6 separate regions of the Homo sapiens genome follow, and regions 1, 2, 3, 4 and 5 are each linked to region 6. Evidence: fine-mapped expression QTL. Tissue or cell type: whole blood. Region 6 holds a variant in brackets; each other region holds the start of a gene. Each region is shown on its reference strand, or each on the opposite one.

Evidence for each region. PIP is the estimated chance that this variant, and not a neighbour inherited with it, causes the effect. A credible set is the group of variants that fine-mapping cannot tell apart.
Region 1: it holds the start of AHSP, and the variant in region 6 is fine-mapped to the expression of AHSP in whole blood (TOPMed, PIP above 0.99).
Region 2: PLEK2 starts here. The variant in region 6 is fine-mapped to the expression of PLEK2 in whole blood (TOPMed, PIP above 0.99).
Region 3: GATA1 starts here. The variant in region 6 is the best candidate, but not a certain one, in a credible set for the expression of GATA1 in whole blood (TOPMed, PIP 0.86).
Region 4: it holds the start of KRT1, and the variant in region 6 is fine-mapped to the expression of KRT1 in whole blood (TOPMed, PIP 0.96).
Region 5: it holds the start of PTMS, and the variant in region 6 is the best candidate, but not a certain one, in a credible set for the expression of PTMS in whole blood (TOPMed, PIP 0.61).

The regions. Positions count from the first base shown.
Region 1 is chr16:31,525,793-31,529,880 of GRCh38, reverse strand. It overlaps AHSP (alpha hemoglobin stabilizing protein), which reads right to left and starts at 1,981. Exons shown (of 3, transcript NM_016633.4): 1 at 1,919-1,981; 2 at 1,667-1,745; 3 at 1,078-1,423. The coding sequence starts at 1,741. The coding sequence ends at 1,190.
Region 2 is chr14:67,409,746-67,413,833 of GRCh38, reverse strand. PLEK2 (pleckstrin 2) reads left to right here and starts at 1,669. Exons shown (of 9, transcript NM_016445.3): 1 at 1,669-1,816. The coding sequence starts at 1,775. It also overlaps a transcript of GPHN not described here.
Region 3 is chrX:48,784,841-48,788,928 of GRCh38, reverse strand. GATA1 (GATA binding protein 1) reads right to left here and starts at 2,339. Exons shown (of 6, transcript NM_002049.4): 1 at 2,284-2,339. RefSeq lists cis regulatory regions at 2,092-3,212, 3,652-4,088.
Region 4 is chr12:52,678,042-52,682,118 of GRCh38, reverse strand. It overlaps KRT1 (keratin 1), which reads left to right and starts at 1,712. Exons shown (of 9, transcript NM_006121.4): 1 at 1,712-2,361; 2 at 3,363-3,577; 3 at 3,896-3,956. The coding sequence starts at 1,771.
Region 5 is chr12:6,764,845-6,768,919 of GRCh38, reverse strand. PTMS (parathymosin) reads right to left here and starts at 2,557. Exons shown (of 5, transcript NM_002824.6): 1 at 2,170-2,557. The coding sequence starts at 2,214. RefSeq lists silencers at 1,753-2,252, 2,363-2,692.
Region 6 is chr6:139,517,254-139,521,341 of GRCh38, reverse strand. No RefSeq gene overlaps it. Among named protein-coding and RNA genes, the nearest start is that of LINC01625, 45 kb to the right of the region's middle. RefSeq lists a cis regulatory region at 2,248-2,724. The variant T/G (reference allele first, on the strand shown) is at 1,786.

The DNA of each region.
Region 1 (4,088 bases), not on the chromosome of region 6:
TTTCCACCCTGATCCAGGCTGCAGAGACCTACAAAACAACAGTCGGTTCACAAGTCCCAGAGGAAAGCTTGCTGGAGGTTGGAACGAGGAGCAATCCCTCTGGGCCCCAAACTTTTCCCGCGTTAGAGAGAACACCGAAAAGGTCCAGAACTGCGCCCTCCAGCTCCCCGCGCGCACCCTGAGCCGCGTCTGATTGCTGTGCGGCGCCTCCTAGCCGCGCCCCCGCCCCGCGCACCCCCGCCCCCGCTCAGCACCCCGGGAACCCCCTCCCCCCGCGCGCCCCCGCCCCGCGCACCCTCCCCCGGAGGGCCCTCCCCTCTGCGCGTGGAGGCTTTTCCTGGAGACTGCGCCGCGGGTCTAACACCTTCATTTCGTTTTTAAAAAGCTCTTGAGTCTGGCCCGTCCCTGGTTCCGCCCAGAGCCCTAAAATAGAGGCTTCGAGTCTGGAGGTCTGGGAGAAAGGGAGCTAGACCGGGAATTGATCTGAGAAGCTTGGGGTGGGGGGAAGGCGGATTCCTCTGCTTCCCAATCCTGGCATCTGCGCCCAGGGATGTTGGAGCCAAAGGGAAGTGGCTTCCCCTCCTGAAATATAAGGGGCGCGCTAAAGGGTTCCCAGGATCCCTTCCAACTCTAAATTCCTGCGATGCCTGGGGCTCCGGGGAGGTATTTTGCGGTAGTCAGAGTCCGAAGATCCTAGAATGTAGTTTGAGCTGGGGCTAAGGACAGGGGATTGAAAAGTCGAGGCGGTGGACCTGGCGCAGGATGAACAAGACTGGGAGACTTCCAACAGTTTCCTCCTCGACAAGCAGGTCACAGGACAATGTCTGGAGGACTTCTATCCCCCTTTCTTGTTTCTGCCACCCCCTCCCCTGCAGCTCTGCACTCTCTCTAGTCCCGCCTTCCTGGCCCTCGTTCAGCCTGTTTTAGTTTAGAATCGCTGCCCGGTGGTCACTCAAGGCTGCTAACCTCTGCTGTAAGGAATTAAGCTTCCAAGAGCATATCTAAGAAGGAGGGCGGAAGGAAAGGGACCGAGTGCCTCCACATGTCAGGACAGACCATGAAAGAGAAGCCAGGAAGTCCAACAAAACCAGCACTGGTCTTTATTGAGGTGTCAGGGTAGAGTGGCAGGAGCACAGCCTAAGGACATGAAGGTCAGAGTTTCTCAGAGAGGAGGGGCTGGGTCCCTGAGCTAGGAGGAGGGCGGTGGGTGACTCGGGAGCTCATGAGACTTCAGGAAGTCCCTGTACTTGGCCAGGAAAGGGTTGGCCAGAGTGTTCAGCTCTTGCCGAAGCTCCTGCAGAGCCTTGTCTCGCTCTTGGGGCTCCCCTGTCACCTGCTGCCTGTAATAGTTGATGTAGAAGTTCATCCAGTCCTCCACCACAGTCACCATGTCTTCTTCAGAGACGAGAGGATCATTGAAGACCTGGGGGGTTGCGGAGAGGCAGTTGGCAAGGGAGAATGTGGTCAGCAATGGGATTCGGGAATACTAGAATAGTGCCACAGCACCAACTCTCACATTCTCTTTCCTCTGCATTGTATCCCGTGTCTCTCGTTGTTTCCATCAACTCCACCATTACTTCACCAGCTCCAATTATCCTCTTCCTCCACTTCCCCGGCACCCCCCAGTCTCCAGGCCAGTCCTTTGAAATGGAAAGCTTGGACTCACCTGCTGATTCAGCAGAACGCTGAACTCCTTCAATCCTGCGGAAATGAGATCCTTATTGGCCTTAAGAAGAGCCATCTGCCTGGGTAGAGAAAAGGGTAGAATTTACATATCTGTTTCCCTCCTCACTGGGTATTTCCCCCAACCCACTTCCTCCCCTTAAAAATCCCTCCTGCCCTGCAGGGCTATCTCCTTTCCAAAACCTTTCACATCCTGCCCTGCTCTGAGGTCACGATTTTCCCAGGTTGGGCTCACCTTCAGGTCTAACAGGCTGTATATGTCTCACCCACACTCTTGAGGGTGCGTGAATCTCTCTGTGCCAAGCTATAGATGTAGGCAAGGAGTCAAGTGTCAGCCTAAGATAGAAACGCCCTGCATCTAGGTCCTGAAGGAGGGTGATAGGTCATTCTAGGGAGGAGAAGAAGGGAGAGGCTTCCCTGAAGGTAGAAAGATAACAAGGCCAAAAAAAAAAAAAAAAAAGATAAATGAGGAAACCCAGGAAATGCAAGAAGGCAAGAGCCAAACCAGGGGCATGTTCCTGCTTTTTGCCCCATATTTCAGTATCCAGGCTCGAAATGCTATGGAAATTGACGTTTACTGAGCCCTATTACATGACAGAGGCTTTTGTGTAATCACAACGATGTGATCGCAATGATTCTCCCAATTCGGAGATGATGTATTAATAGCAGCTTGCATTACATTTATTCATTTGTGCCAAGCACTGTTTCAAACATGTACAAAATATTTATCCTATAAAATTTCTTTTTAGACACATTTTGCAGATAAGCCACCTGTAAGCGTGTGGACTGAACTCCACCACGCTGTGCTCCATAAGAATGGAGATAAATAGCCGGGCGTGGTGGCGGGCACCTGTAGTCTCAGCTACTTGGGAGGCTGAGGCACGAAAATCGCTTGAACCCAGGAGGCAGAGGTTGCAGTGAGCCAAGATCACACCACAGCACTCCAGCCTGGGTGACAGGGCGAGACTCCATCTCAAAAGAAAAAAAAGAATGGAGATGGATTTGTCTTGTTTACTACCCTGTCAACAGGTACCCAATAAAGCAGAAATACTCTTTTTCCTCTTTTTAAATATTTTTCCAGATATTTTCCATTTTCAGTAGATGTTTCTCAAATTTCAAAATCACTATATACTAATTGAAATAATTAAAACAATACAAAAACGTACACTGAAAAACTGAATCATTTTTGCCCCCTCCAAAGTAACCAGCATTAAACATTGTATATTTCCTGTCACTTTTTTTTTCCATTCAAAACCCAACATTCATAGGTGCCTATACACTCATAAAGCTTTGTTGATTTGCCTTTTTGGTTGTAGCATTTTTTAATCAATATACAGCAAAACTGACTTCCTTTTGGTGTACAGTATATTAAATTTTTTTTTTTTGAGAGGGAGTCTCCCTCTGTGGCCCAGGCTGGAGTGCAGTGATGCGATCTCAGCTCACTGCAAACTTTACCTCCCAGGTTCAGGCGATTCTCCTGCCTCAGCCTCCCAAGTAGCTGGGATTACAGGCGTGCATCACCACGCCTAGCTAATTTTTGTATTTTAGTAGAGATGGGGTTTCACCATGTTGGCCAGGCTAGTCTCGAACTCCTGACCTCAAGTGATCGACCCACCTTGGCCTCCCAAAGTGCTGGGATTACAGGTGTGAGCTACCGCATCTGGCCTAGTTTATTAATTTTATAACAGATTTGTGTAACTACAAACGCAGTTAAGATACAGAATGTTTCTGTCACCCAAAAACCACTCCTTCACGTTACCCTTTTGTAGCCACCCCTACCCTCACCCATAACTTCTGGCAACCACTTATCTGTTCATCACTACAGTTAAGCCTTTTTCAGGATGTCATATAAATGGAATCATACAGTATGTAACCTTTGAGACTGACTTTTTTTGGTCAGCATGATGTTCTTGAGCTCCATCCAAGTTGTCACAAGTGTCAGTGGACACATTGCATTGTATGGATGCACTGTAGTTTGTTCATTCAGCCACGGAAGGACATCTGGATTGTTTGTACTTTGGGGCAAGTGTGAATAGAGTTGCTATAAACATTTGTGTACAGGTTTCCATGTGAACATGTTTTCATTTATATAGGGTGGAAAGTATGTGTTACCGGCCAGGCACGGTGGCTCCCATCTGTGATCCCAGCACTTTGGGAGGTCAAGGCAGGCAGATCACTTGAGGTCAGGAGTTCGAGACCATCCTGGCTAACATGGCGAAACCCCCTCTCTACTAAAAATACAAAAATTAGCCAGACATGGTGGCATGCACCTGTAATCCCAGCTACTTGGGAGGCTGAGGCAGGAGAATCGCTTGAACCCAGGAGGAAGAGGCCGCAGTGAGCGAAGATCACGCCACTGCACTCCAGCCTGGGTGACAGAGTGAGACCTTGTCTCTAAATAAATA
Region 2 (4,088 bases), not on the chromosome of region 6:
CTACAGGCCTGGCTTCAGAAGGTGACCAGCTGATGTTCATTCTGAATTGGAATGGAAGCCCCACTGCTTTGGGGCTTCCTGGGAAGTCTGAAGGCCAGTTAGTGCAGAAGGCTAGAGTGGGCCATTGGGCTGGCACGCAGTGACCCAGACCCTGCGAGTTTTCCTTGGGGCTGGCAGGTGGGAGTGGGGTTGGGGGGATGTAATATGTCTACTACAGACATGTAGAAGCAACACTGTGTCAAGAGCTCCAGGGCAGGGACTGGCCTGGGAGCTGGCTTCAGTCTGGTTCTGAAAGGCACCCCCCGCCTTCCACAAGCTGGTTCACCTTCTTCCTCTCTAGAGCCTTCTCTTCCCTTACAGGCATCTGAGGGCCTTTCCCATGCCTGGTGAAGAGTCCTGACAGGGCCCTTCAAACTGGAGCACAAATAATATGGACCGGCCCCATGACTCATGCCCACAATCCCAGCACTTTGGGAGGCTGAGGCAGGAGGACTGCTTGAGCCCAGGAGTTCGAGACCAGTCTGGACAATATAGTGAGACCCTGTCTCTATAAATAAAAATAAATTTTAAAAAAATGTGTGACTGTGTTCTAAGGATTGTTAGACAGAATCAGTACTATTTGACTGAGTTTCCTTCTGTTCCAGGCTCCAATATGGCCTGATAGAACATTGTTGTTGATCCTATCTATTTAAAATGTTAGCATTTTGTTCATCGTGGATTTTTTGACATTAATTTTGATTTTAAAAAATGCATTAAAATATTATTTTTCTAGGTCTTACACGGTGGCTCTTGCCTGTAATCCCAGCACTTTGGGAAGCCCAGGCCGGAGGATTGCTTGAGGCCAGGAATCAAGACCAGCCTGGGCAACATAGCAACACCCTATCTCTACGAAAAATAAAAATAAACCAGCCAGGCATGGTGGTGCACTCCTGTAGTCCTAGCTACTTGGGGAGCTGAGGCAGGAGGATCTTAAGCCCAGAGTTTAAGGCTGCAGTGAGCTATGATCACACCACTGCACTCCAGCCTGGGTGACAGAGAAAGACCCTGTCTCAAAAAACAAACAAAAAACCCCAAAAAACCAATCATCTCTCTCTATATATAATTTGTCTAGGTTACTGGACTCCTTGGTGCCCCCTTAAATTTTGTCCTTAATGATGGAATTTTCGGCTTCATCTTTTTTGAGGGAGCGGGGTATATCCTGCGGACAGGGGGCCCTGCAAACTGTGCCTGCCGCCTTAAAACTGTGACCTTCCTGTTACTGAGAGGTCTTCTCTGCCCCCATCAGAGGCCAGGATAAAATTCCCATACCAGTTTCGGCTCACCCACTGTCCCATCTCCTACTTGCAATGAGCTCAGGAATGGCTCCAAATCCTGGAGTCCTGTCGGTTATGTTCAATTCGATAAGCGTTCCTCGAGGGCAATGCGCTAAGTGCCCGGGAAGCACCTGGCGAAGGACGCTGAGCAGAGAGACTGGAACAGTGAGGGGCGCGGGGCGCACCTGGATGGGGCGGGGTTGGCCGCTCTGTACCTGGAGGACCAACCACCGACCCTGGAGCACCTTTGGGTGGAAACGTCACGTCAGAAATCCCGACTTGGTCTGACTTCCTGCCCCGGGGCCTCAGGCTCTGGACACGCGCCAGGGAGGCGTCGCCCTGCCGCGTCGGAGCTGCTTCCTGGGCGCCGTGGGCGCGGACTGCGCGGGCTGCGCGGGTGCCGAGGAGCGCGAGGCGCGGGGAAGGCGCACCTGGGGTGGCCCTGGCGTGCGGGCGGCGACATGGAGGACGGCGTGCTCAAGGAGGGCTTCCTGGTCAAGAGGGTGAGTGCGCGTCGAGCTTCGGGACATTGCCCGGGTGGGGCCCCGCCGACGCGGCTCCCTAGAGCGGGGCCAGACGCGCGCCCCGGAACGGGCATGCTCTGGTTCCCATCCCCAACCCCCATGGTGGGACCGGGCCGCCTGTGGCCCTGATGGGCAGAGCTGCATGTCCGAGGGGACGCGGGGTAAGCGGTGGCTCAGCGCACAGGCAAGGAGGAGAATCCCACTTGGTTAGCGCAGTATGGAGTCGGGGCAGGGGTACTGAAGCGTGTGTCTTAATTAAAACTTGTTAAAATATTATGAATGGTATGATATTTAAATAATATTTACTAAGATAATATAGGCGTGCTCTGTAATTTACAACCTGTGAAGGAGGAATGCTACTATGTGTCTTAAGCACTTACTGTTGGCCAGCCCTGGATATTGTCTCATGTCATCCTCCCAGCAGCCCTGCTTTCATCAAGGGGGAAAACGAAGCCCAGAGGAGTTAGGGAACTTGCTCGGGGCGGTGAAGGCAGTGGGTGGTGGAGCCAGGATCGGGATCAGACCCACTCAGGTTGACCCAAACCTTTACTGCCTCCCCAGTGCCATACACGGTGGGTACTGACATCACTCTATTACAGACGGGGAAACTGAGGACCAGAAAGATGAAGTAGCTTGCCCAGAGCTCCAGAGCCAGTAATAGCTGGGACAGGAACTGCATGTTCTGACCTCCCCTCCTCAGTCCTTCCCCACCACCCCAGGTGGCCCAGGGCAAACGAGTGCAAACAAAAACTCAGTGCCTGGGATTATGGTAGAAGATGAACAAAAGAGCAGCTGCAAAAGGAAGTTTGTTATTTCAAAATTTTTTCCTGATTTGACCTTTTTTTTTTTTTTTTTTTTTTGAGACAGGGTCACCCAGGCTGGAGTGCAGTGGCACAATCCTGGCTCACCACAGCCTCGACTTCCCAGGCTCAGGTGGTCCTCTCACCTCAGCTTCCCTAGTAGCTGGGACTACAGGTATCCACTACTATGCCCAGCTAATTTTTGTATTTTTTTGTGGAGACAGGGTTTCGCCATGTTTCCCAGGCAGGTCTTGAACTCCCGGGTTTAAGTCATCTGCCCACCTTAGCCTCCCAAGGTGCTGGGATAACAGGCGTGAGCCACCACACAGAGCGTAATTTGAACAATGACATTAACACTAACCATTTATACTGCTATGATGGCATAGCAAAGAGACATATAAATCCAGGGCTGAGCTTTCTGGTTCTTCTACTGAGTTTTCAGCTTTGGGAGGGGAATGAAGAGGGATGAGGGGCCCTTCCTTTCATTGCCTCCCGGGGTGGCTGGATCAGCCCTAAAGTCTCACATCACTTTCATTTTCCCCACAAAATGTGTCCACATGATGTTGCACGTTATTTGGTACAGGAGAGCGGTGGCTGTTTGCTGTAAACAGTAAGCAAGGAGGGTAGAAGCTGATGCCAGATCAAGGGTCAGACTGGATAGAGCAGTACAAAGCGCCACGCCCACTTGCCACTGTGGCTGAACTGATAGGCCGGTTTCTCGCAGCATGTGGAGGTGGCTGCACCTCAGACTACACATGGGGAGCTCCTAATCTCACATTTAACTGCGGCTTGGGAGGTGGGAGGGAGAGTGAGAGCTGGGCACGGGGCTTTTTGTTGGCACTGTTGATATAGCTGGGCCCTGGTAGAGCCTGTGGAGGGATGAAGTTAACATGGAGACAGATCCTTCTGATAGAGCTTTGGGAGTTTTGGAGGCCTTCTCCTGTTCCTGGGGGTTACCTTCCATCATTCCCTATCACCCCCACCATGCTGAGAGTCAGAGGAGGGCTAAGGGCAGAGCCACAGAGCTCCCAGGATATCACCAGGAGGATGGGACTTCTCTTCTGGGTGGCCTGGTTAGGGAATCCAGGGTGCAGAAAATGAGGAGAGTCAACAGATCTGGTCCCCGTAAGCCCTTGGAAAAGACGGGGCTTGGCTGAAATACCTAGAGCTCATTCCAGCCAGACCCAAAGACTGGGATGGAGCCTGACCCTGAGGCAAGCAGAAGTCACACCCCTCCCTGCAGGCTGAAGGATAGGGCCCCAGAACCCTGTTGTGGTCCCAGTCTGCTGAGTAATCCCAACTTTTTCAACCCTCCATATCCCCTCTACTCTTAGATGGCAATAGCATTCCCTATGTCCACTGGAGAAGTTGCAGGCTGTGGCAGGGGGATTCCATAGTCTTAGGAGAGTTAAGAGCTCAGAGGTGGGGCAGGGCCTGCGTTGGAAGCCGGA
Region 3 (4,088 bases), not on the chromosome of region 6:
TCTCCCTCTCCTCTCCTATCTCTCTGAACATCTCTGCATCTCTCCCACTCTTCCTGCTTGTTTGTCTGTTCCCTCTGTTTCCCTCTCTTTGGGCCCTCTGACCTTATGTCCACGTGCCTCTTACTAGTCCCATACCCCTGACCGTACCCAGCCACATGCAGCTCAGGATAAGGAGCCTGGAATGCTGGCCCTGGCCCTATTGTGCTGGCCTGCTCTGTTTCTGTGTCTGTAGGGTGGAGTGACAGGGCTAGACTAGAAGGCTGTCTTCAAACTGCCCCTCACTCCTGCTTACATGACCCATGGTATAGACAGGCTAAGGGGCAGGCCCAGGCTTGGGAGTTATGCTAGGAAAGAGATGGGCCACAAGTGTGCCCACCGCCAACACCTTCTCAGCCCCAGGGTGCCTGCTGTTGCTCTCTGAAGAGAGTGTTTTGCTTCCCCATCTTGGTCTCCATCTCTTTCCTCTCTGTCTCTAATTCTGTGTTAGTCTCTGCCTCTTCACAGTGCTACCTGCGTGTATCTCTGCATTTCTATCTCCTTTTCTGCTCCCGGGTCTTTCCTTCTTTTTCTCCGGCCATCTGTCTGTCTCTGTCTCTTACTCGTTGAGTTTCTCTCTCTCTGTTTTTCCTTTCTCTTCATGTCTCTTTTGTCTCTTGCTCTTTGTCTCTGTGTCTCTGTCTCTCTCTTCCCATCTCTCCCTGTTTCTCCCTCTCTTCCCTGTCTCATTGTGTGTCTTCTGCTCACTCTTTCACCACTATTCCCTCATCCCCTCAACTCCACCTTACCCACCATGATCTCCCTCCAGCCCCACTGCCCCCAACCCCTGCACCTCACACGTTGGTGAGTCCAGGGCTGCCCACCCCTCCCATGGCAGGGGCCCAGCCTCCTCACCCCCAGTTATCACTCTCCGGACAGAGATAAAGTTTATCTCGAGGCTGGGGGATATGAAAGCTCCTTATCAGCTGCCCCACTAGAGTAAGTGTTGCCCCAACGGCGGCAGCAGGCAGCAGCTGGCACCCTCCACTCTCCCTCGGCCCCAGCCCCTCACCCCAGGTAACGTTCCAATCCCAGCCCTCAAGGGAGGGTCTCACCGGGCTGAAGGGAGCAGATATAAGGTCTAGGGGGCAGATATGGGGCTTAGGGGGAGATAGAGGTGGAATTTGAAGGTCAGATATGGGGTTAAGTCAGAGAGGTTTGGGGTGTAGCCATGGAGTTTGTGGGGAGGCAGATATGGGCGGGGTTGTGGAGCAGAGACGAGCTTGGAAGTTCAGAGACACATTTTGGGCTCAGGAATAGGTTGTGAAAACAGACGAGGTTGGGGGATCGGGGCGAAGTTTGAGAGTCAGAAATAAAGTTGAGAAGTAGTGTGGGAGTCAGATTCTGAGGGTCATAGAAAAGTCTGGGGAGTTCAAGGGTTTTTCTGGAGGAGAGATGGAGTTTAGGAGTCAAAGATCTGTTTGGGCAGACAGAATGTGGCTAGTAAAGGGGAGTTTGAGAAGCCAAGATAGAATTGGAGTAGAGAAAGGCTTGGAGCTGGAGAGATTCAGGGAGACAATGAGATGTGTTTTAGGGCTGAGATACGGTTTGGGGAAGGCAGACATGAGGGTTCATGCGGCAGAACAGATTTTGGGGAGTTGACTTGGTGTTTGAAGTGACAAAGATATTTTACTGAGCAGGCAGGGAGTTGGGAGAGATAAATGGTTTGCGGAGATCAGAGAGAAGTCATTGGGAACAAAGAGTGGGTTTGAAAGGCAGAGATGGTGGTAAGAGGATGGAGCTAGGGTTTGGCAGATCAGAGACAGGTTTGGGGGCTCAGAGAGAGTGGGGCAAAGACAAGGCGTTGTAGAGCAGATAAGGGGTTTGGGAGCAGAAAAGTGAGGTTTGGAGGAGAAGTCAGGGAGACAGAGACAAGTTTGGGTGAGTGGAAATCAGATATGGGACAGGGAAAGGATTTGGGGAGATAAAGTCATGTTTTGGGAGACAGAGTTAGTGTTTAGGGGAGACAGACCTAGGGGTATAGCGAGCAAAGTGAAGGGATCCAGAGGATATAGATATCTTGGACGGAGTGGATGAGAGGGCAGAAAGAGGTGGGGTTTAGGGGGTAGATTTGGGGTAGAAATGGGAGTTGGAAAGACAGGTGGGTTGGAGGAGCTGTAAAGGGATTCAGGGCTGGCTGACACTTTGGGGACCAGCTGTGGGTTGGGGAGCCTGGAGCAAGCATAAGGGTAGGGGCAGCAGGCCCAGGGTTGCCTTGGTGGGGGCTCTCTGGGGGCTGAGACTGACCTGGGCTGGTGGTTGCGGAGGGTTCGGCCGCCTTGGGGATGTGGCAAGCTCAGTGTGATCCCAGGGGGTGTCCTGGCTGGCCTTGGCCTTTGAGGCTCCCTTCCTCCCTCCCTCCCTCCCTCCCTTCTCCCTCCTCCCTCCTCCCCAGGGAGTGGCTGGTGCCCCAGTGGGTGGGGCAGTCCAGGGGAGGGGGCGGGTCCCATGCTTGTGGGGCACCTCTTGGGCACTGGAGGCCCTCTTCCACCCTCCCTGCCCACCCTGGGGATTCTTGGACCTCGCTCGACCTAGGCTCCCGTGGACTGTAGTGTCCAGACAAGCAAAATAGGCTGAAACCAAGATAAATGAAAATAGCAGATATGGTTTCATGACTTCACTGGGCTTTTCAGAGAGTAAAGCCCTTAATTTGTGCGGGGCCGGTGTGGGCTAGACTCCTGTGTATGTGCGTCTTCCTGGCTGCAGGGAGAGAAGGGATGTGGCTGTACCCATTTTGCAGGTGAGAAGAGTGAGGCTCAGAGAGGTTCTGCTGGATTTGAACTAGAGCCTGTGGGATACCTTGATGACCCAGGCTAAGCCTGCAGGCCAGGCCAGTGCTGGCGGGAGGCAGGGGCACACTCACTTAGCGCCCCACTGGGGCTTACGCCAGCTCCGGCCTGCCCTGGGGCAGCAGATAAGTCTTATCAGATGTAGGCGACCGTGGCTGTTGGCGCCGCAGTAACAGGCTGTCTTGGGGTGAGGGTGTGGGGGTAGGAACACCCAGGGACAGTGGCCTCAACTTCTTGCCCGCCATGCTGCCTTGGAGGCGGGAAACTGAGGTGGGAGCCAGGGATGATTCCTCGAGGAGTGGTATAGGGTAGGAAAGGAAAGGGGTGGAGTGGGAGAGACAGAGGCAGAGAGACAAACAAAAACAGAGATAGGCGGAGAGAGATGGAAATGGGGAGAAAGAGAGTGACAGAGATGAATAGAGAAGGAGACAGACGTGGAAAGAGGCAGAGAGAGGGCACAAAAGAAAAGGAGAGACAAAGAGGGCGAGACACCCGGGGAGAACCAGAGACCATTAAAGACATATAGAGAGAGGCAAAGAGAGAATGAGAGACAGAGATGGACAGAAGTGACAGATAAAACCTGAAAGGGAAAGAGGCCAAAGACAGAAGTGGAGAACTGAGAAGGGAGACAGAGACAGAGGGATATTCAGAGACAGACTCAGAAGAAGGTCCAGGCAGACTGGATCACACCCTGGGCATGTGGTGCCCATGCAGGTAGGATGGGAGGATGTGGATTGATGTAGCCTGTGGCTCTGCCCTCAGCCCTCAGCAGGGGACAACCAGAATGTGGCTAGGCCTCCGCACCCCAGTCCCCACACTCTTGCCCTGCCCCACCTCCTCCAAATATTAATGACAACAACCACAGTGTCTCATAGACCTCACATAGACTTGTACCTAACCTGAGCACTTTTTCTATATGAAAGCATCTGACACACATGCACACGTGGGACAAGGAGCTGTCCTGCCCACCTAGTCTACAGATGGGGAGACTGAGACCTACAAAGGGCAGAGGCCAAGGGTGGAGCCCCAGGTCAGTGGGGTCAGCTTGCCCACTGGCCCACCCTGGAGGGATCTTACCATTCTTATCTCACTCCTCTGAGCCTCAGTGTCCTCATATGCAATGGGAGATTTGAGGAGGAAAGAGAGCAAGCCCATGAATTCCTATTTATTGAGCTCCTGCTGGTGTGCCACGCCCCATGCTGAACCCTCATCAGTAATAAGGAGAACGAATACAAAGACACCTCTGACTTAAGTGGCAGTGGT
Region 4 (4,077 bases), not on the chromosome of region 6:
GTTTGCCACTTACAGAGTTACTTGGAGCCAGCTGAAGTTAGAGCTGGCTTCTCCCCTTTGAGTCTTCAATTCTGTGTTTATGTGCAGGCCCGGGGACCATGCCAGGCTTCTAAGAAGTCTTCGAATGAAAGTCTGCTTGGGCTTCTAGTGTGTCCAGATCTCAGTGCCACTATTATCCACTGATATTGATCAAGTGCTGCTCTCCAGGAAGACCCCTGAGGTTTCCTGGTCCATTGCAATGCATGCTGGGTACTCTTGCACTTGGATGGAAGTAAAATCTCCTCACTAAACTCTGTGCCACCAAAATCTCCTTCTCAGTGTGAATTGAAGAAACATTTTCCAAGACTTGCATGTGCCAGGAGCCAAGGACTCAGAGTGATAAAACAGGCCTTCTGCCCTCAGAGCTCTCTGTGGTGGGGCGCTTCCTGTGCTGTCTGGCTTTACACACAGCAGGCAGAATGACTTGAATTCGGCTGCTGTGCTGTCGTACAACATGCTGTTTAGGATCTTGCACATGATAGCTAGGTATTCTTGCTTCAAATCGCAGGCACCCCACTTACCAACTGTGTAGACTTGATCACGTTATTCAACCCCTGTGTCTCTGCTTCCTCATTTTACAAATGGGGAGAAAAATAGCATCTATCTCAAAGTTGTGAAAATTAAGCAAGTTAATACATATGTGCTACGTAGAACAGTGCCTGGTACATGGTCAGTTTTTGATACATGTTAGGTATTATCATTATTATCACCTCCAGAAACAATTTAAACTTCTCATATAAGGCTCTCCAGACACCTCTCATTGTCTTCCCTTCCAAATCTGCATTTATCTCTCTCTCTTTGCAGTCCAGTGTGAGGCTTGAATCACCTATCAAGCCTCACCTCCACCCCTGTGCTTTACAAAATGTCCTAGAGCTTCTATTTACTCGTCTCACTGCTCTGTGGGCTTTTTCACTCAAGGGCGTTTGCATGCTATCCATTGCTACCTGTTTTCTATTGCTGGTGTCTGTCTCCTGCTCTATCTTTGAAGAAAAGAAACAAGAAAAGGAATAACTGAGAAACAGAGAAAAAAAATGTCTCTCCCTTCTGGTTCTTCCAGACCACCCACTCATCCATCTTGTTCAATGACAGCTTCTCTTCCTTTAATTAATCACTGTGGTATATTTATAAAGCTTATATTTATGAAAGACCTTTTAATTTTTTAGTTATTAAAGCCCTTTCTCTTTGTCAGGTTGTAACTGAGTGAGCTCTGGAGTTTGGAAAGAAGATCTTAGAAATGGGCCAGAGAGCTCCTTCTGAGATCCAAGCACGGGGAATTGCACCTGCTGTGCATGGTAAGAGAGTGTGCTTGGTAGCTCACAAAGGCAAGGTGAGAATAGAAACTTTCATGCCTTTTTGATGGGGGTTATGAAATCCTACCAAGAAACACCAGGTATCAGATGTGGGGTCCTGTTTTCCCAAAGCCACAAATGCTTGAAGGAAGATCTTGTGTGATAAAATAATTACCACATGAACCAATCTTGCATGCACAGCAATTTTGAGAGCCCATCCTGGGAGCTAGGTGTGTAGTGTTTATCGTATTGTTGAGGCTCGTAAAAATCTTGTATGGCTGCAGGCAAGCCAAACCCTTGACAGGCACTGCATCTCCGCTGACTCTAGAAGACCAAGCCCAATTTCTTCCCTGTATATAAGGGGAAGTCTCTATGCTTGGGGTAGAGGAGTGTTTAGCTCCTTCCCTTACTCTACCTTGCTCCTACTTTTCTCTAAGTCAACATGAGTCGACAGTTTAGTTCCAGGTCTGGGTACCGAAGTGGAGGGGGCTTCAGCTCTGGCTCTGCTGGGATCATCAACTACCAGCGCAGGACCACCAGCAGCTCCACACGCCGCAGTGGAGGAGGTGGTGGGAGATTTTCAAGCTGTGGTGGTGGTGGTGGTAGCTTTGGTGCTGGTGGTGGATTTGGAAGTCGGAGTCTTGTTAACCTTGGTGGCAGTAAAAGCATCTCCATAAGTGTGGCTAGAGGAGGTGGACGTGGTAGTGGCTTTGGTGGTGGTTATGGTGGTGGTGGCTTTGGTGGTGGTGGCTTTGGTGGTGGTGGCTTTGGTGGAGGTGGCATTGGGGGTGGTGGCTTTGGTGGTTTTGGCAGTGGTGGTGGTGGTTTTGGTGGAGGTGGCTTTGGGGGTGGTGGATATGGGGGTGGTTATGGTCCTGTCTGCCCTCCTGGTGGCATACAAGAAGTCACTATCAACCAGAGCCTTCTTCAGCCCCTCAATGTGGAGATTGACCCTGAGATCCAAAAGGTGAAGTCTCGAGAAAGGGAGCAAATCAAGTCACTCAACAACCAATTTGCCTCCTTCATTGACAAGGTGAGTTTCTCTCTCATTGCACTGGTAGGGCTGCCGCTGGTCCACTTGGGATTGGTGCAGTCAAAACACAGTAGGTTTGAACCTCAAGTTTCCATGTTTACATGATTAAAAGGATGTTTTGTGGAATGGTCTCCTAGGAGATATGTTAGATGTATGCTTGTGAATGGTGTTAATGACTCTCTCTTTGACAAAGGGTTCGTGGTCGACCTAAAGGTGGGTCAGTGTGACATTAACATTTAAGTGCTTTTTATTCAGCTCTTGAGCGGAATTGGGACTCATATCTGTTGAATGAAGATAATAGAAATGGGGCTAACTGAACTTTCCAGGGTGCAAGTGAGAACCCTGGAAAGGTCTTCCTAACCATAGAAAGGGAGTTGAGTGTGAACATAGTATAGAGTGTTATTGTAGCAGAAAACATGTGGTCAGTCAGTGCCAAACATCTTTTGCTGTCAGAGGGGAGCTCTGCCTTCTAATAATTTTACATTGGTACTGGATGAGGCTAGAGTTTTTTTATACTAATATCTCCAAAAATCAGCTCTAAAAAACTCAGATAAACCATTTTTTTAATTTTTTGCTTAATCATTAATAGTGCCAATCCAAGGTTATCCACAACAAATTTCAAATCCAATTTTGAATTTTCCTGATATACTTTTGAAATGTGTGTGTGTCCTGGGGATGCAAACCAGTTTTTATGGTAATATACCTAACAAAATTTTGGAAGGCAAATCTCTTAAATACCATGCACCTATTTCAAAACATAATTGCAATAATTCTGTATGCGCTTTGCTATTGGTATTTGTTTAGTTACTCCCTTCCAAGCCCTCTCTGAATTAACAAGTTGGGTTTTATTATGCAGATGATATTAACTTGATCATCTTCTTCCTATTTCTCTGTCATGGTCAGAAGATAGGAATTGAGGTTCTTTTCCAAATGAGGCACAGTTCTCCATGGCTATGAGACTCCATTTATGCATCAGGAGTAAAGGGGTCTTGTGTTTTTAGGTGAGGTTCCTGGAGCAGCAGAACCAGGTACTGCAAACAAAATGGGAGCTGCTGCAGCAGGTAGATACCTCCACTAGAACCCATAATTTAGAGCCCTACTTTGAGTCATTCATCAACAATCTCCGAAGGAGAGTGGACCAACTGAAGAGTGATCAATCTCGGTTGGATTCGGAACTGAAGAACATGCAGGACATGGTGGAGGATTACCGGAACAAGTAAGGGACCCTGTCTGGGCAGTTCTTAACTTTTGCTGTAAAAGAGTTCCAGAAAGTAATAAGCTAAGATCATGAAGCAGCATGTAGCTATGTCTTTTCTTAGGTTAGAGGCACATCAGTTTGACATTTTCAGAAATCTTCATTTTCTCAGGAGATGGAAATAGTCTAGTGGTTTTATTGCTCAGTAGAAAGTAGTGGCCAATATGTCCTAGGTTCATAATAGAAAGGCAGTGATAGGCAATGCCACCTTTAGTTTAGAATGCTGGACTTCAGGTCTTACCACCTCTGAATCTCCTAATTGTTTCTGCTTTCCTGCAGGTATGAGGATGAAATCAACAAGCGGACAAATGCAGAGAATGAATTTGTGACCATCAAGAAGGTAAGCAAATTCTGTAGGACGGAACTCACATTTGAAATAAATAAGGGAAGAGGGTCTCCAATTACTAAGCAGAAAGCAGCCATGATATGGAGAGCCAGGTAGTAGACCTGGGGAGTATATG
Region 5 (4,075 bases), not on the chromosome of region 6:
GAAATGTAGGTGAAGTAGAAGAGAAAACAAGGAGGGGAAGAGTAGCAGGCGTGGGAAACAAGGAGAGAGCAACAAACAAGGTCTGTGACTGGGGTGGGATAGGAATGGAGAAGAGGGAGGGACCAGTCTAGGAGACCCTCCCACCAGCCAGCCCCTCTCCTTCACCCCAAGATCCTAGCAGGCATAGGTTGACGTCCTGTGCTGATATGGCACATCTGAGTCCCTTCTGGACACTACACTAGCCTCCCAATTCAGATTCCAGTGCTCTCCCCACCCACTCCTTGGCAGGCACAGTGTAACACGGTAGGTGTCCTTGTGTGATCTGATCTGGTGTTGGTGTGCCACGCTGTGTATCTGATTCCATGTGAATGGAAGTCTCCTGTGTGAGATCACCCTGGGCGGGGGGGTCCTTTCTGGAACAGGATAGGGGATAGGAGAGGAGCCTGGTGCAGAACGGCTGCCCTGGGGGGCACTCAATTCCCTTCTCCCTTTAAGGGTAGCTCAGAACTCTTCACTCTCACTCCAGAGAGGGTGCCCTTCCACCCCACCGTGAGGTCTTCATTTCTGTGCCACAAGGTCAGTATGGCATTTCCACTACCTAGGGGGCTCTTCCCTACGTCCTGGGCCAGGAGAGCAAAGAGCTGGTCAGCTTCTCTCTGGGGGCCCCAGCACCAAAAGTCTGTATGGCCCTGGCCTGACTTTCCCATCTGGGCTGATGCAGGGAGGGAGAATACCAGAGACCAAAGTTCAAGGGGCCGGGCCCTCTCCTCCCCTGTTCTGTCCTTCTGGTCACTGTCCTTCCATGATCCCTTTTCCAGGAGAATATGTGACCTGGGCCCTAGGTCTTCTGCTAAGCAGCCCTCTGGCCTCATTTACTCAACACAGGCACACACACCGACACCGGCCGACAGCCATGCACAGACACAGTTAGAGAGGAGCACCCACGCGATGGGAGACACATGGCCCAGCGTTGGGCCATTCTGGTCCACACTCTTGAGACAGCACGGGAGCACAGCGGAGCCACTCAGCACTCACAAAGCGACAACATGGCTCCAGAACATCTACGTCTCCACATGCACACATGTAACTGACACGGGCAGTCCCACACACTCGCTGGATTTCAGACATACAAAGACACCTACTCAGTGAAGTCACATGCCACCGCACAGCCCGCCGGAGGGCCACACGGGCGCACCTTGGCAGATCGCACACAGCCCCTCTCCCACCGCCGTTAATCCCATTGGCTCCCCCCGTTTCACTCCGCGGGCCTCCGGGAGACCTGTGTGACGGCCCCTCAGCAACCACCGCGCCCCCCCCCCCCGCCATACACATACACACACAAGATAGGGCTCCCAGCCCCCAAACCCCGGCCGCGTTAATTTCCCAAAGCGACACTCCGCAGGTTCCCTGGGGAAATTAGAGGAAGGCTGGAAGAGAGGCAAGGGCGAACGGATGGGGCCGGGGAAGGGAGCTGATGAGGGCGAGGACAGCTCGACGCAATGCCATGCAATGCCCAGCCTCGGCTTTTTCGAAGGCTAGTCCTGCCCCGCTTCTAATTTTTAGGAATTCGAGATTCTTTCAGTGTGTATGCGGGAAGGGGACGATGAAGAGAAAAGAAAGCTGAAAGCCAGCTGAGGGGAGGGAACGAGAAAACAGAGGCGGCCGCCGTCCGGGGAGAGAAGCGAGCGACGGTCGGGCCGCGGGGAGGGGCCCGGAGGAGCAGCCTCCAGGGAGAGTCCTGTTTACACTTGAGGATCTCAAACCGCTTAGCGAGGAAAGGTGAGGTCAGGTTGCAAGCAAAGACGCGGCAGCGGGGCGCAGGGAGGGGGCGCGGCAAAGTGAGACTCGGGGCGTTCGGACGGGAAGCCGGACGGGATCCGGTCAGCGAGGTGGGGCCGAAGAGGGGTGGGGACGGCTGCGGGGGACGGCGCGACCGGAGCGGCGAGGCCGGGCGCCGTGGTGCGCGCAGGGCAGCTAGAGGGCGCTGGCGCTAGCCGCGCGGAGCCGGGAAAGGAGCTCCGGGCCGGGGAGCGGTGGGAGGGCGCAGTGGGGTCCGCCAGGACCCGGGCGCAAGGGCCGCGCGGGGCCGTCGGGGGCGGCCTGGGGCGAAGGACCGCGCCGGGCCCCAGGGCTGCGCGAGGTCCGGGCCGCCGCCGCCCCCGCCCGTACCTTGGCGCTCAACTCGGCCGCTGCCTCCACGCTTTTCTCCGACATGGTGCCGGGGCCGGGGCCGGGGCTGGCGGGGAGCCGGGGTCCCGGGGCCGAGACGGAGGGGCCCTGGACGGCGGAGGGTGGCCGCGGCCGGAACCTGGCGCGGTGGCGGCGGCGGCGGCGACAGCGGCAGCGGCGGCCGCTCGGCAAGCTGGGTCTCTGGAAGAGGCGGCAGAGGCGCGCGGGGTGGGGCGGGGGTGGGTCTGGAGCGGAGACCCGCAGGGCTGCGGCCGTCCGGAGGGCGGGCGGAAGGGCGGTGCAGGCGGTGGCCGGCGCGCTCGGCCGCGGTAGCTCGATCCCGGGCTCGCCGCCCCCGCACCAGCAGAGCTGCCGCCGACCAGCCGCTGCCGCCCCCGGGAAGGGAACCCGCTTATAAGGCGGCGCTGCCCGACGGGAGGGGCTTCCCAGGGGTGGGGCAGGCGGGAGCGGGGAGGAGAGGAGAGGGGAGGGGGATGAAAGAGGAGGTTGGAGAGGTGGGGATAGGAGGATGAAAGCGAGGGGAGGGAGAGCTAGGGAGTCGGGAGGGAGGACGAGACCAGGAGGGGGAAATGGAGAGACTGACGGCCGCGGAGAAAGAGTGGGGCGAGGAGGTGGGAAGGGGTGGGGTTCCTGCGGGGAGGCACCTTTCCAAATCCCAACCTACTGCCTGCGAATGTGGAGTCTGGCTTTTGGGGGCGGACTGGAGAGGTGGCCAGAATCCTACTGACCCCAAAAAAAGCCCTGGGATTTTGCCAAGGGGTGGGGTGAGGGGAGCAGATGGGAAGATAGGGCAGGTATTTGAGAAACCAAAAGCTTAAAGAAGAGGAAGAGGGTTCGGGCGCTCCTTCCACACCACGCCGGATTTCCCCCTCTCATCCTCCATCCACATTCTCTGGATGGCCTTGAGGAGGGATGGGAGGGCAGAAAGGGCGGCCCAGCCTTCTGTCCCGCCAGATTGACACTTGTGACCCTTGCCGGGTGCCTCCCTTCCTGGCCCCGTGCTGTGAGCCGGGGGGAGTCAGGCCCCCTGGTCTCCTTTGCTGTCTTCCAGCTCTCTTCCATCTTCTACCTCTCTTATTCGCCCGTCTCACCTCACTTTTATTCGCCTGGTCCTTCTATTTCTCTTCATCCGTCCTCAGTCATCTGTACCTAGACCCCTCCTTCACAACCAATTATAACTCGAATCGCTCCCATTCTTCTCTCACCTCTTCTCCACTCCTCACTGACTCTCTTCTGCCCTTCCACCTCTGGTCTCTTTCCCTATCTTTCCCAGACAACCCTGCTCTTGTCTTATCTGAGTCAGGCACCTGGCCCTCTATTCTTGGCTGGCTTTCCTCAACTCCTCTTTCTGTCCTCATTTTTTACATTTTCCATCCTTCAGCTTTTCTCATTCCTCTGCTGCCATCTTCCCTAGCCTTTCTGGGTTATATTTGCCTCCTTTGCAAATATAATACAGGTCCAGGTCTGGAGTTCCAGCCCCACCCTATTCCACACATCCTCAGCTCCTCGCCCTCAATCTCGGTATCTTTGAGTCATTTTGAAAAGCTTGGGATTTCAGAAGGGAACAGGGGCTGGGTTGTGTATTAAAGGTCAGGAAGGTGGACAGAGTGGAAGGCTGGGGTTTGGAAAAAGACCTTTGGTGTGCGTGCACTCCCATATTTGTCTGTCATTATCATTATTCCTCATCTTATTATTTTCATTTTATTAATAAAAAACTACGTTGATGATCATTATCATTATTTTGTGTTTGAGTGCTTAAATACACCATCTTTTGGTCCCTTGATGTACACGCCTCCCAGTTTCTCTTTCTGACTTTTCTATCAATATTTCAGTCTCAGTCTCCTCAAAAATCTTGGGGCCCCACCCAGGATTTTTCCTTGCCGGA
Region 6 (4,088 bases):
CATCTAATCTTAAACACGTCACCTTTCAAAGGGTCTGTTTCCTTACTTAGAATACGAAGGCACTCTTGGGTTTCTCCTCGCTCTTAATTTTAAAATCTCTATTCCCATATTCCTACTGATAAATCTGAATAAAATATAAACCCCTACATTGACAATTACTACAGGAACGACAGTAATGAAGTGACAAAAATATTACTGCAATCATCTTTCTTCCTCCAAAAAACTACAGATTACAGCAACATCTCCAAAATTTAGTGTTAGATTTTCTCAGCATTCCACATCAAAGGAAAAACAGTTTAAATATATATACATATGAATGTATAAATTTGGTACCTTCACTGCAAAAAAAAATATCAGTGTGCAAAAATGAGTGCAAAAGAGATCACTCCTCATGCATGGAGTGGTGATTTCCCTGAAGTTTGGAGTAGACTTGGCGATTCAGAACATCACTTATCTTTATCCAAACTCCATAATCCATAAACTGTGGACCTATTTTCACCCCTAACCAATGAAAGACAGCTGGCTCCATGTATATAAAGAAATTGTATAAAACTCTATCCAAGTTTTCAGTTCGTTAATGACAAAGATTTGACTCCAGATTTCATCACTGTAACATCCCACCATTGTTCCCCCATGACTCACTGTACCTGATTTACAGGAAGATACAGTCTGAATATGAAAGGACATTTCATCATCAGCAACAACAGAAAGTATCCATTAAGTCATAATTATATGACTTGGTGTTTCATTAGTCACCTTAAAAAAAAAAAAAGAAAAAGAAAGAAAAGAAATACGGTCCTTCCATTCTAACTGGGTACATTCTACAACTAAAAAGAATGTTTTGAACCAGCATGATAAGGACATACAGATGGCAAAATGCAACATCACAGTTGATCACAAAGGCATAGATTTCTATATAAGGGTGACCAATAAGGAGCCAGCAGGGTCAACATGCGATGACGGCAATCAACATAGAGGTCTAGAAAAGTTGAGATAAGATAAAGCATGTGTTCTTATCACTCTGGGAAGACTTCCTGGAACTGGTAGCGTTTTTTGGTAGGGAAATATACATTGGCTGGTGGGCTGGGGGCTCAGGAAAGGTTCATAAAAGCAAGTGGAATAATTATTCAAGAGGGTGCTCACCTTGTGATCTGCTTACGGAGGTCCACTCACCTGGGACCCTAGATCTGCTGCACAATATTTGAAGGAGAGGATGCCGTTAGGGGACAAAAAGTTTGACAAGGACACAGAGACAGTGGTCCTGATAAAAGAAGACAAAGTTCTGCAACTAGGCAGACAGCAAGGAAAGCAGTGCATTCAGATGCTGGAAAGGAAGACATTCTCTCAAGCAGCAGATGGCCTCTCGTGGATCTCACTTGCACCGTACACCATGGCTTTAACAAGACATTTTGCAATGGGTAGCTTAGAATCTGGTATCCAAGAACAGTGACCCATTTCAGGGTGTCTTAATATCCTGAAATTTACCACAAACTTGGTAAGTTGAAGTTTCTGTGGGATATTATTGGGAAATGCTTCACATCCCTAAGTCATTCCTTCTCAACTGTTCCTCAAAAGCTTAAAATAGCACTTAACTCCCAGAGTGATTCAACTGGCTTAAAATAATTCACAAACATCTTCCTCAAAGGAAGTAGGGAAAAGATAGGAGGTGGAATGCAAATCAGCTAACAGGTTTTGTGAACACTGAGAGGTGAATAGATTAGCGCTAACAGATCGGGTAGAGTCTGGAGGCAGCCGTGAAGCTGATTGTGTCTCGATCAGGTTATT[T/G]CAGCCAATAATTGTTTGTTGGAGTTAGAAAGCATATAAAGGTTAACAAGGCTAAGGAAGACCGGTCTCTGGGAAATAAACTACATAGCCTAAGGAGATGATAATCAAGGGAGAAAATTCCTCTTATCCTTGCTAAGCCATATCTACATGGAAATAATAGTCAATAGGCTTTCTATATCTAGATGGTAACGGTTTCTTTTCCCAAGGATTGGCACCAGATAGGTTGTTTGGGGAAAGGGGTAAGAAGGGGAAGCACGTGGATTTGCCGCTCACACCTACTATAAACGCTACAAAACAACATTCTTCTTTTATTTTGAAGCCACATTCTGTAAGCTTGTGAGTTAATTCATTAATTCACCAGAAATTTATTTTACACTCATCACACATCAGACACTATGCCAGGCCCTCAGGATATAAAAGTGAATAAATAATATAATTAATCATAATAATAGCTTCCATTATTGGGTGGCTAGCATGTGCCAGGAATTCTACCTCCGTTATGCAATGGAATGCCCACAACTAACTTCTAAATGAGGCATTATGTTCCCATTTGTCAATGGAACACTAAGATGAAGAAATGAGCGTTCTGAGAGGCTAATAAAAGTGGCAGATGGCTCAAGGAACTCCAGTGTGAGAGCGAGATAAGCACTCCATGTTTGCAATATTCTATGGGAAATGCTAAAACAGAGATTACAAAAATAATAGGAGGAGCTTCTAACTCAGCACAGGGGAGAGGAGATCGATAGGCGAGGAGAGGGGAAAGTAGGAGTGTGTATGAGAGCCAGAGAGATAAGGTATCTCTCTGAGGGTGTGTGTGTGGGGGCGGGGGAGAATGTGTGTCCGTGTGTGTATGTCTGTGTGTGCGTGGGTATACATGTTTCTTTCTGTTTGTTTTTTGTTTTTTTGTTTGTTTGTTTGTTTGTTTTTGAGACAGACTCTCGCTCTGTCGCCCAGGCTGGAGTGCAATGGCACGATCTCGGCTCACTGCAACCTCTGCCTCCTGGGTTCAAACGATTCTTCTGCCACAGCCTCCCAGGTAGCTGGGATTACAGGCGCCCACCACCACACCTGGCTAATTTTTGTAGAGACGGGGTTTCACCATGTTGGCCAAGCTGGTCTTGAACTCCTGACCTCAGGTGATCTGCCCGCCTTGACCTCCCAGAGTGCTGGGATTACAGGCGTGAGCCACCACGCCCGGCCCTGGGTATACATATTTGTGTGTGTGTGTGTGTGTGTGTGTGTGCCTGCGCGCAAGTGCACATGTGCCCTGGGGGGGGGAGAAGGTCATAGCACCCCAGAGATATACAGTCCAGGAAAGGAGATAGGGGTAATATGAACTGTCTTTCAACCAACCATACCCACAAAAAGCTTCCCTCTGCATTTCTGCAGGATGAAGCGTGTTGCAAGAGAAAACAGCAGGGCTTACGCACAGTGTTTGGGGGATGACACAAGAGGCCCTGACAAGATACTTTTTATCAGCTTGAAGAAGAGGGGGCATTTATCTTGACAGACTAATTACCCGCTTTGAGTTAGATATTGTTCCGTCTATCCGTGTACCCAATGTGGCTATAGTAATGACAGGTTTTTTAAACAAACAAACCAAAGCTTCTAGGTCCAAATAAATGCTGCAAAGTAGTCACCTTAAGTTTAATTGCTTATTTCATTGTCTCTCTCATTGCTCAAGGCATTTCAGAAACATCTCTTTTGAAATTGCCTTCATAGCTTACGGTGCATTTTTTTTTTGAATATCCTTAACGGTGATAAATTTTCACCAGTTAAAGGGTAGTATTTTTGGTTTTGTTTCAAGTCAAAAAAATCATTTTGAGCTAAGTCCATGATGACTGATTAAACTGGATAAAAATAATCAAAAACACCAATTAAATGCTAGGCACTAAACTGTTTTTCATGAATCATCTCACCTAATTTAATTCTTAACACAAATCTATAAGGTGAATATTAATGTCCCTATTTGATATATATTTAATAATTATAAAATTAGCACATGTTATTGAAGGAAGGTTGAAAAATCTTGAAGAGTAGAGACCAAAGCTGCTTCAGTGTCCCACTTACCCACATCGAATCACTACTGATATTACTGCGCTTATCTACCTAGTGTTTCTTCTATGGGTAAGCATAAGAATACATTTTCCCCAAAAATTAATAACAATGTGTATAACCTTATAATTTTTCACTTACTATTATATTGTGAACAATTTTTCATGTCACTAAATTTCTTCCACAAAAATCTTTACTCCCTATTTGGTATTCCTGTTTGTGGATATATCATAGTCTACTCACACAAT